2 separate regions of the Homo sapiens genome follow, and region 2 is linked to region 1. Evidence: fine-mapped expression QTL. A gene starts in region 1. The other region holds a variant in brackets. All regions are shown on one strand. Distances are between the middles of the regions.

What was found.
Region 2: its variant is fine-mapped to the expression of KHNYN in naive CD4 T cells (Schmiedel 2018, PIP 0.92).

What each region holds. Positions count from the first base shown.
Region 1 is chr14:24,428,500-24,431,255 of GRCh38, forward strand. KHNYN (KH and NYN domain containing) reads left to right here and starts at 1,455. Exons shown (of 8, transcript NM_015299.3): 1 at 1,455-1,620; 2 at 2,215-2,432. The coding sequence starts at 2,232. It overlaps CBLN3 (cerebellin 3 precursor), which reads right to left and starts at 1,169. Exons shown (of 3, transcript NM_001039771.3): 1 at 256-1,169. The coding sequence starts at 555. RefSeq lists a silencer at 1,292-1,831 and enhancers at 1,862-2,041, 2,186-2,749, 2,602-2,711, 2,750-2,756.
Region 2 is chr14:23,901,644-23,904,657 of GRCh38, forward strand. It overlaps LINC00596 (long intergenic non-protein coding RNA 596), which reads right to left and starts at 1,296. Exons shown (of 4, transcript XR_429343.4): 1 at 932-1,296. The variant T/C (reference allele first, on the strand shown) is at 1,480.

The sequences.
Region 1 (2,756 bases):
AGAAGGAGTGGCAAGTAGGAGTGAATAGGAGTGAACAGATTCAAAAGAAATGGTGAGAAGGGGCAAGGAGAGGGCTGCGTATGGGTGGAGGGAGGGGAAACCGTCGGTGGGGTGGTGGGGCAATAGGCCAGATTAGTGAAAGATGTAGGAAGCTGTTTTCTTAAAGCCTCAGAGACAGCAAAGTGGGCTTGGACAGTTGCTTCCAGGTCCTTGCAGGGTCTTTCCAGGTCCCCTGGACAGGGGTAGGGGGATTACCTGGTCGAAGTAGATGGCCCCACTGGTGCCATTGCCGGTTTCCCCTGCTGGCTCATGGTGGTGGCTTCGGACCGCAGCAAATGCCACTCGCCCAGGGGGTGCCTCTCCCAGGGCTGCTCCCCCGGGCCCCCCTGCAGCAGCTCGGCCAGGCTCACAGACCACCAGGCACTCCCCCTCCAGCAGGACGGGCTCTGACCCCTCCTGGGCCCACCCGGCCCCCAGGGCCAGAAGCACCAGAACCAAGGGCAGCCCGGGACTGTGTAGGGGACCTGGTAGCCAGTGTGGCTTGGCTCCCAACATGGCTGAGGGGCTCTGCAACCCACAAGTGCCCCGGTCTTCTGCCCCTCTTCTGTTTCCGCTCCTCTCCCTGGATTCTCACCGCCGGCACCCTGATCGTCTGCCCTCTCTAGGCTCGCTGAACCCCCTCTCCATACCTGTGTCCCAGCTCTGTCCTGCCTCCCACTCTTACTCCTGCTGTCACTGCAGTTCCCTCCTCCTTGGCAGAGCATGCAGTGACAGCAGTTGGGCTTTGGGAGAGAAAGGAGGGATGAAGCCGCCTGCCCACTGGACGGGAGGGCTGCAGCCAGAGCTTCAGGGCAGCCCTGCTGGATGGGACAGCACTGAGGGCTGGACCTGGGGGGATGGAGAACATGGTATGTGTGTGTGACGGGTGTGACAGAATGTGTGAGTGTGTGCATATGCCAGAGGCAGCCCCTCAACCCCTTCCTCCTACTCTTCCTCTCTTCAAAATCCCCCACAAATCAACAGCCCTTCTTCGTGGCATCTTTCCGTTTGTTGGAAGAAAGGGGTACTCCACCACGGGTACCCTCCGCCTCCCGCCTCCCGCCTACCCCCTCCGCCACGATTGCTTTGGTGGAAAGTGCTTGGGCCTAGAGCACCAGTGGGCCAGTCACGCTGCCTCTTTGGTCGGCCACATCTTTATTCGCGGGAAACAACTTTCAACGCATGGTTCCCCTTTCCGAGAAGTAACTGCGCAGAATGCGCGAGGACCCTGAGGGCCGGGAGACAGACGGGAGGGCTGGTGAGAAGCGCAAGGGGCGAGCCCTGGAGCCGCCGAGGGGACTAGGCCGAGCGGGCCCGTCGGGGCCTCTGGGCGCGGCGGCGGGGTTGGGAGGAGGGCGCGCAGCCGGGAGGAGCTGGGCTGACTCCGCCCCAGGCCAGGAAGTGACTCAAGAAACAGTTTGCGTGCGATGTGGACAAGAGAGGTCCCCGCTGGGTGAGGAACCCGGGAAGGCCCGCCCAGATTCGGGCCCCCTGCCCTTGTCCCCTGGGCTGGGGGCGCGGGCAAAGCGGGGGCCTGGCGGGCGCTGAGAGGACCTGAAGCCGGCGCGGGCGGCGGAGGCGGTAGGCGCGCCCCTCCACCGCGCCCGGGAGCGGGGAGCGGGGGCCGCGGTGCGGAGTAGGCCCGGCCCGGGGTGGCTGCCCCAGTCCGCGGTGGGCGGGCCCGGCCCGGCCCGGCCCCTGGGCCCTGGGCGGTGCTCCTGGCCCGACGGAGAGGGGCAGCGGACGGCTGGGGGAGGGGTGGGAGTGGCTTGAACCTTGGAAATGGCAGACCAGGGCCCCCAGAGGACAGCCTAGTTCAATCCCCTGCTGAGGATTCGTCCTTAAGAAGCTTCAGAGTGCCCCAGGAGACTCCTTCTGGCCTCCAGGCCGAGCTGGAGCCCCCCCACCCTTCTTGCTCCGGACTGTGGTCATCCTTTTCCAAAGCCCAGACGCCCACTCTCGATAGACAGCCTTGTTTACCGGGACTTCCTCTCCGGAGAGGCCTGCGTGACATACACCCTCCCTACCTCCAGTGGACTCAGATGCTTGTCACCTCCTGGGGCTGTTTACCAGAGCCTTAACTAGGTGCGACCTGTTGATAGCTGGTGTAGTCCCAGGAACCAGGATTTGGATGGAGGGTACAATGAGGCTCTGAGCTGCCTTCTCCCCTTCCAGGGCTGGGGGCAGCAGCCATGCCTACCTGGGGGGCCCGCCCCGCGTCCCCAGATCGCTTTGCGGTGTCTGCGGAGGCTGAGAACAAGGTTCGGGAACAGCAGCCCCATGTGGAGCGCATCTTCAGCGTGGGGGTGAGCGTCCTTCCGAAGGACTGTCCGGACAACCCCCACATCTGGCTGCAGCTGGAGGGCCCCAAGGAAAACGCCAGCAGAGCCAAGGTGAACGCCTTCTCTCCCCCATCCCTCCAGGCACCAAGGACGCTTTCCCCCAGGGCGGAGGAGAGCAGGGCCGAGGAGAGCAGGGAAGAGGAGGGGCCTGGGGAGGATCTCCACTTCTTGGTTGTCTCACTGGCAACCTCAGTGCCCCTGAGTTTTGAGGGACTTTCCAACTCTATATTTGTTTTCAGTTTCAGCTTAATTTCTTCTGTGATGGCCCAGGCTGGCAAAAATCATTCTGTGCTCTTTGGGAGAATAGAGATATCTGGCTGAACAAGTTGGCCCCACCAAGGAATGCACTGTGGGGTGGGAGGCTGGGCCACATTG
Region 2 (3,014 bases), 530 kb before region 1:
ATTTTAAAAATCAAAAAGCCAAACAAACACTGACGAGACTAGGTTCTAATGCCAACTACTTTGTCAAGGATGCAAACCACTTTTCTACTCAAAAGAATTTATAGATTCACAACTATGAAAGCCAGAAGAAGTTAAGCATACTTTGGAAAGAAATTGCCTGACATAGAGGCATTTTCCACATATTTAAGCCTGACTCCAAAACTGTCAATGGAAGCCTGTATCTTGCTGACAAGTCCAAGAAAACCTGTTCAGAGCAGCCCAGGCTGAGACTGGGAAGGTGCACTTGAAGGCAGGACCAGGCAAGAGGCTCTGTAGTTAACTTGGTTTCCCACCCTCAGCCAGCATTTAGGCACCCCACTAACTTCAATGTTCATGTTGGGTTAGAATACAAAATTGCTTGAATTTTAGTTCACAACACGTATCCAATTCATAACTGAATTCATAAAACATTATGGCTTAGAAGTTAAGAGCATGGGAGCCTGGCCATCATGGTGAAACCCTGTCTCTAAAAAAAAAAAAAACTATAAAAATTAGCCTGGCATGGTGGTGCATGCCTGTAGTCCCAGCTACTCAGGAGGCTGAGGTGGGAGAATCGCTTGAACCCGGGAGGCGGAGGCTGCAATGAGCCAAGATGGCATCACTGCACTCCAGCCTGGGCAACAGAGTGAGATCCTGTCTCAAAAAAAAAAAAAAAAAGTTAAGAGCATGGGGTTTAAAGACAAATCTATGTGTTAATGAATAATGATTATATTTGTTGGGCAAGTTATTTAACTTGTATATGACTCAGTTTCCTATGTGTCAAGCAGGGATAGTACCACCCACTTCAGTGGGCTTGCATGAAGATGAAAACACCAAATGAACCTCAGTTAGGCACATAGAATATACGCCAAAAAAATGGACTAATAGTAGAAATAACTGCTCTAGAACTCACCTTAGGAGAAAAGAGCCTGATTTCCACAGAGAACAAACATCAGCTGTGCTACAGCCTGCTTTATCCAGCTGAATCTCAGCTTTGTCTGCCGGGATCCCAGCACACAATCCTCATGATCCCATAAGAGGCTCAAGGCATCTACAGAGGACAGACATTAAGACAGAGATGTGACTTTTTTTCTAGGTTCAGGAGTACATGTGCAGGTTTGTTATGTAGGTACATTGCATGTCACAGGAGTAGTTTTTCCAGCCTCACCCTCTTCCCATCCTCCGCCCTCAAGTAGACTCTGATGTCTGTTGTTCCCTTCTTTGTATCCATATGTACTCAATGTTTAGCTCCCACTTATAAGGGAAAACATTAAGTATTTGGTTTTCTACTCCTGCATTAGTTTTCTTAGGATAATTGTCTCTAGCTCCATGCATGTTGCTGCAAAGGACACGATTTTGTTCTTTTTACTGCGGCATAGTATTCCATGATGTATACATACCACATTTTCTTTATCCAGGCTACCTTTTTTTTTTTTTTTTTGAGACAGAATCTCACCCTGT[T/C]GCCCAGGCTGAAGTGCAATGGCGTGATCTTGGCTCACTGCAACCTCCGCCTCCAGGGTTCAAACGATTCTCCTGCCTCAGCCTCCCAAGTAGCTGGGATTGCAGGCGGCCACCACTATGCCCAGTAATTTTTTTTGTATTTTTTGTAGAGACAGGGTTTCACCATGTTGGCCAGGCTGCTCTCTCCAGCCTACCATTGATAGGCATTTAGGTTGATTCCATGTCCTTGCTATCATAAATTGTCCTGTGATAAACATACGTGTGCATGTGTCTTTATAGTAGAATGATTTATATTCCTTTGGGTATATACCTAGTAATAAGGTTGCTGAGTTGAATCGTGATTCTGTTTTTTAAGTTCTTTCAGAAATCACCAAACCACTTTCCACATTGGCCAAATTAATTTATATTCCAAGCAGCAGTGTACATGTTTCCCTTTCTCCAAAAAAAGGTGTGTTTTTTTAAGAGACTAAGAAACTCCAAATATTGAATGACGTCTATCACGTGCAATGACTCTGGAGAAGTATAAAATACGAACTCTGCCCTTAAGATATTGTCAGCCTGGTGGCAGTGGGAGGAGGGGCAGGGGAAACACTGAAAGTTGGGTTGGAGAGACAGCCATGTAAAACCAAGTAGATGTATTTATAAGGCTTCCCTGAAGTAGGGATGCCTTTGCTGAGTCTGAGGGAAGAGTAGGAACAATCCAGGGAATGAGAAGATGCAAGCATGAAATGCAAGAACATTGTTATGTTTATAGTAGAAGGAGCTTGTGAAGGCAAGGGAGAGGAGTCAGGGACAAATCAACAAAATCCCAGTGTAGGAAGCCAAGAAATGTACATTTTATCATCAAAGCCATTGAATCTCCACAATGAGATGAACTTGATCAGCTTTTCACCTTGGAAAGACTCCTCCAGCTTAGTTTGGAAGTAAGAGCAGAACAGGAGCTACAGCTACACTCCAGGAAAGACAGATGACCACTCCAACAAAATGCAGTGACTGAGGAATCAGGAGAAGATCAACTAAAAGCTAGCAGATATCATATTAGCAGGCCTTGGTGACAATTGCATATGGAAGAAGTGAGAAGGATCTTGGCTGACTGCGGTTTCTGGCTTAGACAACTGAATGGATAGTGGGCCCATATGTTAACATAGAAAATGCAAGGAAAGGACCAGAGTTCCTGGGAGCTGATGTGCACAGTCCATAGAGATTCAGACGGGTCCCTGTGCACTGTGGCGGTAAGCAAATCTGTGAAAGAGGCCCTGCATGATGGACAGAATGTGATTTGGTGTCTTTCAGTATAAGCCTCCATCCTGGTTTGGGGCTTTGAGGACTCAACAAAGTGAAGTCTGGAAAGAGGGCAGGGAGACCTCCTGGTGTGTCCTAGGGGGAGGAGAAAGGAAAGGATGCCCTGACTTAGAGAGGAGAGAGAACAGTAGCTGCCCAGACACCCCAGGACCTGCCCAATCTTGAGCTACTCCTGTTGCTGGGATTCCCTCTGTGCCCTAGACAAAGCAACTGGGACTCATCATAAAGGTAAG